Regions from separate parts of the Homo sapiens genome. Here region 1 is linked to region 2. The links come from fine-mapping of genetic effects on gene expression. A gene starts in region 2. The other region holds a variant in brackets. All regions are shown on one strand. Distances are between the middles of the regions.

The links. PIP is the estimated chance that this variant, and not a neighbour inherited with it, causes the effect.
Region 1: its variant is the best candidate, but not a certain one, in a credible set for the expression of GRK1 in lung (TOPMed, PIP 0.82).

What each region holds. Positions count from the first base shown.
Region 1 is chr13:113,599,059-113,604,418 of GRCh38, reverse strand. The region is part of intron 2 of TFDP1 (transcription factor Dp-1); the gene reads right to left. Among named protein-coding and RNA genes, the nearest start is that of TFDP1, 17 kb to the right of the region's middle. The variant C/AC (reference allele first, on the strand shown) is at 1,951.
Region 2 is chr13:113,665,007-113,670,366 of GRCh38, reverse strand. It overlaps GRK1 (G protein-coupled receptor kinase 1), which reads right to left and starts at 3,148. Exons shown (of 7, transcript NM_002929.3): 1 at 2,282-3,148; 2 at 553-680. The coding sequence starts at 2,980.

The DNA of each region.
Region 1 (5,360 bases), 66 kb after region 2:
TCTACTGACACTTTAGAACTTACTAAGACAGACCCAATTATAGCCTCTGTGGTTTTTTAATATGAAGTCATTCTTATGGGTTGATATTCAGTAGCTACTACTAGACCACAATTACCAGCTTGAGCATGTAAGGAGCTGTAGGAAAGACCCTCATGTGGGTCCTCCTTGCATTTCTTGTGGGCTGTGACCCACAGGAACTCAGTAACAAGCACCACCAAAACACAAATAGTTTAATTTGCCTTTTTTTTTTTTTTTTTTGAGACAGGCTGTTACTCTGTCACCCATGCTAGGGTGCAGTGGTAAGATCTCAGCTCACTGCAGCCTTGACCTTCCCGGTTCAAGCCATCCTTTCACCTCAGCCTCCAAAGTAGCTGGGACAGGCATGCACCCCATGCCTGGCTAATTTTTTTTTATTTGTAGTAGAGACGAGGTCTCATTACGCTGCCCAGGCTGGTCTCGAACTCCTGGGCTCAAGCAGGTGTAAGCTACCACGCCTGGCCTAGCTTCGTGTTTTTAACATATTGCTGAAATTGCTATTAATTTTAAGACATGTGCACTGGACTTATTTTCCTGTTAAATCTTTACACTCAAGATGCAACCCTACCTGCCAGTAAGGACACCTCAAGGTGCTAAACACATTAACATATAAGCCAACAGCAAAGGTGCTCCTTGGCTAAAACTAACCTTAATTTCTATTAGAAAAACTATATTCAACTGTATTTGTGTTTGTACTTCATGGAGATAACAGTAGATTATTCTCTTCTGTCTTACATTAGACAAAACCATACTATGAGTAGCAGCAGTAACAGCAAAACACACGTTCGTAAAACACGCCATGCTGCTAGAAAAAGCTGAATCAATTGAAAATAAGAACTATAAAAGATGACATCACCAGTGCCCACTCTGTGACAGGGTCTACGAATGTGACTAATTTCCATGCCAGGCCCAAAAGGGGACCTATCACTGCCGTCATCTTTAAAACACACAGGTGACCACGGTTCTCACAACCTGAAGCTGCACTTGCCTGGCCAGGATGGAGGCGCTGCCCGGGCCCTCAACGCCTCCCTCTTTGCCAGCCAGCACCCGCCAGGGTGTGTCCAGGGGGCTCCTCCCCTGGGGACACACAAGCCCTAGAGACCCAGGAGGGTGCGAGGGCATGAAGAGGACTCTCCCTTACACTCGAAGGCCCATGAGGGGGTCAGCAAGCAACACACAGCAGCCAGGTGGGGCATACACCTGGACCCCACGCTGTCTCACCCTTCTCTGCCCTGCTCTTCTCTGCACTTTCTAATCTACTGAACAACTGACCATTTCCATTGCTAACAGCTCCCCACTAGAGTATAAACCAGGCTTATCCGACCTGTGTCCTGCAGGCTGCATGTGGTCCAGGACACCTCTGCATGCAGCCCAACACAAATTTGTAAATTATACGTTTTTTTTTTTTTTTTAGCTCAACTATTGTTAGTGTTATTCTATTTTATGTGGCCCAAGACAATTCTTCTTCCAATGTGGCCCAGGGAAAACAAAAGATTTGACACCCCTGGCATCAACTCTGTGAAGCAGGAATTTTGCCTGGTAAGAAAACGGCCCAGCAGGGGCCCTGCAGTCCCGACATCACAGGTTCACAAGCCAGGCCCAGGGCAGGGCTGGAGAGAGGGACGCCAGGGCCGCACACTTCTCAGGGGGGACCCTGCAAATGATTCAGGCTTGAGGGTCACCCAGTCTCTGTCACAGCCACTCAACTCTGCCTACGCAACAGCCATAAAAGTGTCAAGGAACAATCTTAATTTCAAAAGTAAGCAGAGCTGAGAAGAAAGTGACCCAGCTGCACTGAGGGATCCCCCTGAGGACTGGAGTGGCCTGCGCCAGACCCCAGGGCAGAAAACACTTGCACTGCACATTAAACTGCATAATGAATGAAGAGACCTGGGGAAGAGGCCACTCTATAAA[C/AC]AGCAGCTGGGATGGGCCCCGCCTGCTACCAGGACCCTCCTGGCCCCAGCACGGGACTCCTGCACAGAACTCTCTCCGCTCCTCCTTTGACTCGTGCGGAGAACTCCATCCGCTCCCCTCTCGACTCCTGCAGGTAACTCCATCCACTCCTCCCTCAACTCCTGCGGGTAACTCTGTCCACTCCTCCCTCGACTCCTGCAGGTAACTCAGTCCACTCCTCCCTCGACTCCTGCAGGTAACTCCGTCCGCTCCTCCCTCAGCTCCTGCGGGTAACTCCGTCCACTCCTCCCTCGACTCCTGTGGGTAACTCCGTCCACTCCTCCCTCAACTCCTGCGGGTAACTCTGTCCACTCCTCCCTCGACTCCTGCGGGTAACTCCATCCGCTTCTCCCTCGACTGCTGTGGGTAACTCCATCCACTCCTCCCTGAACTCCTTCAGGTAACTCTGTCCGCTCCTCCCTCGACTCCTGCGGGTAGCTCCGTCCCTCCTCTGTCCGCTACAGGGCTACAGAGGGAGTAGCTCTGTCCTCCTCTCAGAGCTACAGAGGGAGTAGCTCTGTCCTCCTCTCAGAGCTACAGAGGGAGTAGCTCTCTCCGCTCCTCCCTCGACTCCTGCAGGTAACTCCATCCGCTCCTCCCTCAACTCCTGCGGGTAACTCTGTCTGCTCCCCCATCAACTCCTGCGGAGAACTCTCTCTGCTCCTCCCTTTTGGCTGTTGGGTTGCCCACCACAAATAGCCAGCACCTTCCGCGCACCTGGCCACAGGCCCTTCCTCTGGGGCCGGGCCTGGGACCCCAGCCTCGAGCTCCCACGAGTCCTCCTGGACCCTGGAGAGCACACCTGGGAACAAACACAACCCCAGAGCTCAGGGACGACCTCCGGTGGCCCTAGCCATCCCTTCCAGTGCCCTGGCCCTGCAGGGGCCCCCAAGTGGGCTGCCCTGCCCTGCTCCCACCAAGCACCAGAGCCTGGTGAGGGTGAGGGTGGCCTCAAGAGACCGACTCTGACCTTGCTGGCTCACCCTGAGGAAGCCACCAGCGAGCTGCCCTACGCAGGGGCCCACAAGGCAAAGTGCAAGAACACACCCCCACCAACAGCCCACAAGGAGCGGGATCCCACCAGCAGCCGGGTGAGTTAATTTGAAAGTGGTCCTGCCCAGACCAACTCAGGGCACCACAGGCCAGGGCCGCCCGGGACAGGCTGAACGGGGACCTGGGCTCCTAACAGGCACTAGGAGGTGACAGACGCTGCTGGTTCAAGTTGCTAAGTCCAGGCAGGAGACGCTGGGTGACCGCCAGGCCCAGCCCTTCTCAGCTACGGAGGCCAACACCTCCCCACCTCAGGCAAGAGGAGATGGTGCCACCACAGAGGAGGGATGCAGCAGAAAAGAACCTCGCATCTGGAGAAGATCCAGGACAGCGTGAAGGCTCATCTCACAAACACGCTCCGAGTGAGCAAAAGCATCAAGTGGGAAGAGCAGGAGGGTTCTCTCTCGTGGTCCTGGAGCCCTACGTGCAAGGCTTCTGTCTCATGGTCCTGGAGCCCCACGTGCGAGGATTCTCTCTCACGGTTCTGGGTCCTGGGTTCTCTCTTGCAGTCCTGAGTTCTCTATCACGGTCCTGGAGTTCTACGTGTGAGGGTTGTCTCTCACGGTCCTGTAGCCCTACGTGCAAGGATTCTCTCTCACGGTCCTGGGTTCTCTATCGCGGTCCTGGAGCCCTACGTGAGGGTTCTCTCTCATGGTCCTGGAGCCCTACATGCAAGGATTCTCTCTCACCATCCTGAGTTCTCTATCACGGTCCTGGAGCTCTACGTGTAAGGGTTCTCTCTTATGGTCCTGGAGCCCCACGTGCGAGGATTCTCTCTCACGGTCCTGGGTCCTGGGTTCTCTCTTGCAGTCCTGAGTTCTCTATCGCGGTCCTGGATCCCCACGTGAGGGTTCTGTCTCATGGTCCTGGAGCCCTACGTACAAGGATTCTCTCTCATGGTTCTGGGTTCTCTCTTGCAGTCCTGGAGCCCTATGTGCAAGGGTTCTCTCTCACAGTCCTGGAGCCCTAAGTGCAAGGATTCTCGCTTACGGTCCTGGGTTCTCTATCGCGGTCCTGGAGCCCTATGTGTGAGGGTTCTCTCTCATGGTCCTGGAGCCCTACGTGCAAGGGTTCTCTCTCACGGTCCTGAGTTCTCTATCGCGGTCCTGGAGCCCTATGTGTGAGGGTTCTCTCTCATGGTCCTGGAGCCCTAAGCACGAGGGTTCTCTCTCACGGTCCTGGAGCCCTACGTGCAAGGATTCTCTCTCACGGTCCTGGGTTCTCTCTCACGGCTCTGGAGCCCTACATACAAGGATTCTCTCTCACGGTCCTGGGTTCTCTCTCATGGTCCTGGAGCCCTACGTGCAAGGATTCTCTCTCACAGTCCTGGGTTCTCTCTCACGGTTCTGGAGCCCTACATACAAGGATTCTCTCTCACGGTCCTGGGCTCTCTCTCATGGTCCTGGAGCCCTACGTGCAAGGATTCTTTATCACAGTCCTGGGTTCTCTCTCACGGTTCTGGAGCCCTACATACAAGGATTCTCTCTGGCAGTCCTGAAGCCCTAAGCACAAGGGTTCTCTTTCACGGTCCTGGGTTCTTTCTCATGGTCCTGGGTTCTCTCTCACGGTCCTGGGTTCTCTCTCGTAGTCCTGGAGCCCTAAGTGCAAGGATTCTCTCTCACGGTCCTGGATGTGGAAGCGGGAGGTCAGGGCAGAGCCAGCTTCCAGGCTGCACCTACTACCTCCTCCTTGGGCCTCGCAAGGTGGGAAAAGGGCAGGCTCGCCGTGGGGACTGGCTATCAGGACACTGATCCAACAGGGCAGGGGGGACTACACCCGCGTGCCCTCACTCAATTCTAGTCACTCCCAAAGGCCCCAACACCCAACACCTTTGAGGGTTTCGAAGGATGAACATTCAGCCAGGGCAGCCCATCAACAGGGTGGAGTACGTGAGGGCGCATCAGCGAGACCAGACTCCAGCAGCCTGGAGGGGGCGAGGCTCCAATGCAAACAAACTTTCCAAATTTGAGACAACTTGAGAAATGTAAATGCTGCCTATGTGACAATAAGAGTGAATGACTATCTCTGAGAGACACATGTCAGAATATTTAATAACTACTTAATGATCACCCTGGCCCGGCAGGGAGTCACCCAGGTCCGTGACAGGGACGAGGCACCAGCACAATCTCTCTCCTTTGTGTGTGTCTGAAACGTTCCACAAATTTTTTAGAATTATCTCTGCTTATATTTATTGATGTGAAAAAAAAAAACCTAGGACAAACTGTTGAGTAAAACATAGCAGTGAACAAAACATGTGAGTTCATTTATTTAGAATTCCGTACTGTACATGTGTATTTAAACACACACATCTAGGGCATCCC
Region 2 (5,360 bases):
AAGCGGCCCAGCTACCAAGCGAGCCTGTGATCTGATCCCCAGCACGGGCCTGGGGCCTGTCTCAGCGGCAGATCCGGGGCAGGACTTTGTGGAGGCAGCGCCACCTCCTCTCTGCCTGGGGACAGCAAGATCACGGCCCCCAGCTGGACTGATCTTGTCTCCAGCTCTAGGGTCAGCCCTAGGAGTGGGCGCTGGTGAAGTTCGTCTTCATTTACCCTCCTGGTGCAAGGCCCTCAGCCCTGCAGAGGCCCCGCCGACTGCATCACACGTCCCCCACAGCACCACGTGCCTCCCACACCCACACCAAGACCACACACAGGACGAGCCCTGATTGTCAGGTTGGGCGCCTCCCAGGCTCCTGCTCCGATGTGGGTCCAGGGTGCATTGTTTCAGGAACCAACAGCGAGAAGGGGATTGTGATGGGTGCAAGGCTTCCCTCGAGGGCAGGCCTGGGGCCACCATGGCTCTGCCTGTGGAAAGGAGCCCGGGCCCTGGAAACCCTGACCCAGTGGGACAGCGGGGCCCCCTCGTGCCCTCTGGCCCAGCCCTTACCTGATGTCACCTCCGTTCATGATGGTCATCACCAGACAGAGGTCGGCTTTGGTTTCAAACGCATAGGCCAGAGACACGATGAACCTGCTGTGTACTTTCATCAGAATCTTCTTCTCCACCATAGCACCCTGAAAAGTGAGACGCTGAGTACGCACTGGCTTTGAATAGGAAAGGGACTAGGTGCATCGCAGAGACCGTGTGCACCCGGCCACGCCCACTGCACACAGCCACGGAGCAGTCGCAAACATGCTTTAAATGCGCCTTTCACAAAGCAATTGCAAATGACTTCAAAACATGCCTGCACCCCCATTTCAGAAAACCAGACATGTGAATTCCTTCACATACAGGGGACTTCTGGTCTTCTGGGCCAGCCTCTGGCAAGGGGAGGCTCAAGCCCCAAGGCTGAGCAACATGGGTGAGGACCCTGCCAGCCCCGCCTGCCCAGCAATCCTGCAGCCACAGCCCTCCCTCCTGTCCAGGCCCCCGTGGGCTGGGCTCCCAGACCAGCACCTCCCAAACCCCCTCACCACTCTGCTTCATTTTGTCTTTATTTTGAAACCTCACAATGCTCCATTGAACGAGTTTGTAAGTGTCTGGATAAGGATAGCACATCCCTCTTTGAAGAGGGAATTCCTGATGTCGGAGGCCCCTTTCTGCACTTACATGGGGAGGTGTTCAGTTGATGTCAGTATGGAGTTCAGTTTGGTGACGGAAGTCAGGAAAAGAGGCTGAATGTTGGGTTAAATTTACAGTTAGATGTGAATGGCACGGTGGGGGAATTAGATGTCAAGAAAGCTAATTTTTAAAAATTACTGCTACAACCACACAGCATAGTTACTCGCCCCGAGTTCCACGGCGAGAACACGCAGATGTTCCAGGGCCTCCGCCCAGCGCTGTGAGCACCTGGTATTTCACCTTCACTGAGGGTTGAGGTTCCGCAGAGCCAGGGTGCACAGTGGCTGCTGCTTAACCCTAAGAGCTTCCTGTGCACTCAACACAGCTGCGTGGTGGGAGAGGGGCCAGGAGCCACGTGGAGTCAAAGTGCAGGGGGCTGGCTCAGGAGATCACGTCCACACCCGGCACAGCCGCTGCCCCTCACCCTTAAGACCTGTAAGCAGCTTCTGCTGATCCTGCCCCAGATGCACAGTCTGACGCCAGTGGGCAGAGCGGATGAAACTTAGAGCGGCCTGCGTGCCCGTCGCTCACTCCCACCCCCGAGGACAGCACACTCAGGGGAACAGTTCCTGCCCCCGGCGTCACGCCAGGCTCTGCCTCACAGAAACTGTCATCAGAGCGAGGCTGCCTCCGTCCTGCCTCAGTTCCTCCTGCATTCGCTGCGATCAGAGGAGCCAGGGCCCTGGAAAGTCTTCCACAGTCATGGCAAAGAATCCGGAGACCCTGCCCCTCTTCAGCCTCCCCTGAGAGGTCCTCTTTCCCCCACACTTGAGGCTAGTCTGTGGTTGGTGAAAAACCGACGAGTGAACGTGGCACGTCCCCACCCAAAAATGTGGAGGTCACTCTCCGAGGAGGGACTTCTGCACATGGACTGGAACTGCTCGTAACCGCACGGCCGCGGGGCGCCCACGTGGCGAGGCTGGCATGCATGCTCCCTTAGGCACCAGCTGTTAAGGGCCCCGGAGCCGACAGTGACCTGGGGGCCCTCTGCACCCTGCCGCCCCATCCCTGCACCCTGCCACCCCATCCCTGCTGGCCGGGTCGCGCTGCTCACCTGGTAGCCCTTCCTCTTCTTCAGCCGCTTCTTGTTCAGCTTCTTGCAGGCATACAGCTTGCCGGTCGCCTTCATCTGGCAGGCCGACACCTCCCCGAAGCCCCCTTTCCCTAGGACCCTGAAGTCCAGGAACCAGTCCTCCCCCATGGGCTGGGCTTCCAGCCACTTCCACTGCAGGAACCTCAGGAAGTACAGGCTGCCCAGGTACTCCTGGAAGGGGGCTTGGCCCAGGTGTGCCAGGGTGGCCTGCAGCAGGGGCTGGAAGAGCCCGTCCTGGATCTCCACAGGCCCCTCCTTAAACTTCGCCACTATCCCCTCATCCAGGAAGCTGCAGAAGAGTTTGGCCTGGGGGTCCAGGTACTGGGCCAGGATGGTCTGGGCCTTCTGTGGCTGGAGGTCATTGTCTGCCGTGTCATAGTCCTCGATGTCTTTCCAGAGCTCCAGGGCCGGCAGGTGCTTCTCTGCCGATTGTAGGAACTGCTGAAAGAGCTTCTTGCCGATGGGCTGCTCCAAGCACACACTCTCAAACTCCAGGCTGAGGCTGTCGCGGAGGGACTCACACTTGGACAGCGGGGGCAGCTTGAGCTTGGCCAGGTACTTCTTGTCCCGGGAGGGTTGGGAGCTGCTGCCGTCAAAGCTGCCTCGGGCGGCGATGAAGGCAGAGTTGGCCACCACGGTCTCCAAAGACCCGAAATCCATCCCGGAGCTTCCTGCCCGCTTCAGGCGTGAGGGCCCATCAGCCGAGGCCAAGCCGGGAGCGTTCACAGACAGAGCAGGCCTGACTGCTGCCCTTGGCCTGTGGCCCGTCCCTGCCCTTGCTGGACGAGAGAGACGCCCTGGCCCTGTCGAGGGTTCCTGGGGACCACTGGGAAGCCCCTGGGAGCCCGGGGCTGACACAGCACCAGGCTAAATCCCAGCCGGGGTCACGGAGGACGCTTAGGAGTGGCAAGAAGGTGCTAGAAAAAGACAATCCCCTGAGCTGCTTGGAATCCGATTAGATCATTCTGCCCGGCCCCTTCCTCCAAGGGGCCGCCTCACTTTTCCCCTGAGAAGGACAAACAACCACCAGGCTTCTGGGGCCCCTGGCTGGAGAGGCACTCAAAGCTCTGTTCTGAGCTGCTCCATCCAGCCCCTGGCTTCAGCAGCCAGGCTCAAGCCTGCTGTTTCCTTGGGATGTGGGCCTGACGGAGAGGATGGAGCCGGAAGAAACCGTAATTTACAAAGGCTGTTTTTCCCTATTTTTATTTTTAAGAAAATAGCAAATGAGAAAGAAAACCACCTGATAATAGGAATTTAGAGAGGAAAAGAAGCCCACAGTGACCAGCTTCCTGGGGGTCTGTAGGTGAGACCACCAGCGCTTACTGAGGGGTCAGTTCCCAGTCATTTGTCTTCTTCTCACCTGGGGTTTGCAGGCAAGGCAGGATTGTCAAGAGGCAGTTGCTGGTGACACCAGGACCAGGGAGCAGAAGATCCCCGGAGCTACATCAAACCAAGGCCCCACTCAGAGGGACGCATATGGAATACAGCTGGGGCTCACCTGGGACACACCTGGAATCCACCTGAGAAACACCTGGGGTACACCTGGGGCACATCTGGGACACACCTGGGACAGCTGGGACACACCTGGGGAACACCTGGGACACACCTGGGACAGCTGGGACAGCTGGGGAACACCTGCAACATACCTGGGGCACACCTGAGACCTGGGACAGCTGGGACAGCTGGTGAACACCTGGAACACACCTGGGGCACACCTGAGACCTGGGACAGCTGGGACAGCTGGGGAACACCTGGAACACACCTGGGGCACACCTGAGACACACTTGGGACAGCTGGGACACACCTGGGGTACATCTTGGACACACCTGGGACAGCGGGGGCACACCTGGGGCACACCTGAGACACTTGAAATGCAGCTGGGGAACACTTGGGACCCACCTGAGACACACCGGGGGCACATCTGGGGCACACCTGAGACACACCTGAGATACAGCTGGTGCACATGTAGGACACACCTGGGAGAGCTGAGGCACACCTGGGATATGCCTGGGGCACACCTGAGACACCTGAGACAGCTGGGGCACACCTGGGACACACCTGGGATGCACCTGGGGCACACCTGGGACACACCTGGGATGCACTGGGGGGCACACCTGAGACACCTGAAATGCAGCTGGGGCACTTGAGACCCACCTGAGACACACCTGGGGCACATCTTGGACACACCTGGGACAGCTTGGGCACACCTGAGACACCTGAAATGCAGTTGGGGAACACTTGGGACCCATCTGAGACACACCTGGGGCACACCTGGGATACAGCTGGTGCACACGTAGGACACACCTGGGACAGCTGGGGCACACCTGGGATATGCCTGGGGCACACCTGAGACAGCTGAGGCACACCTAGGACACACACCTGGGGCACAGCTGGGACACACTGGAGACAGCTGGGGCACACCTGGGACAGCTGGGGCACACCTGGGACAGCTGGGGCACATCTGAGACACACCTGGGATGCACCTGAGACACACCTAAGACAGCTGAGGCACACCTGGGATACAGCTGGGGCACACCTGAGACACACCTGGGACAGCTGGTACACACTTGGAGCACACATGGAATGCAACTGGGGCACACCTGCAATGCAGCTGTGACACACCTGGGACAGCTGGGGCACATCTGAGACAGCTGGGGCACACCTGGGACAGCTGGGGCATACCTCGGACACACCTGCAACACACCTGGGACACACCTGGGGATGGTCACACCAATAGGATTGTCAGCTTCATGAGGGCATGGCCCTGCCTGTCTTATTCCAGCACACAGTAGGTACTCAATAAAGGTTTGGAGAAGAATGAGGAGGAATTCAGCAGGGGATTGGTTCCAGCTCACACAGGGAGGAAGCAAAGGGTCGCAGAAAGGAAGAATGCCGGAGCATAGAGAGGTGGAGACTGTCAGCCCACCCCATTCCACGTGGGAGAAGAGGCAACTGTGGGAGGGCACTGGGGGCTGCACCTGGCAGGGTCTACAGAGGCCGAAGCGAGGGCCCGCAGACCGAGCCGACGTCCCCACGGTCT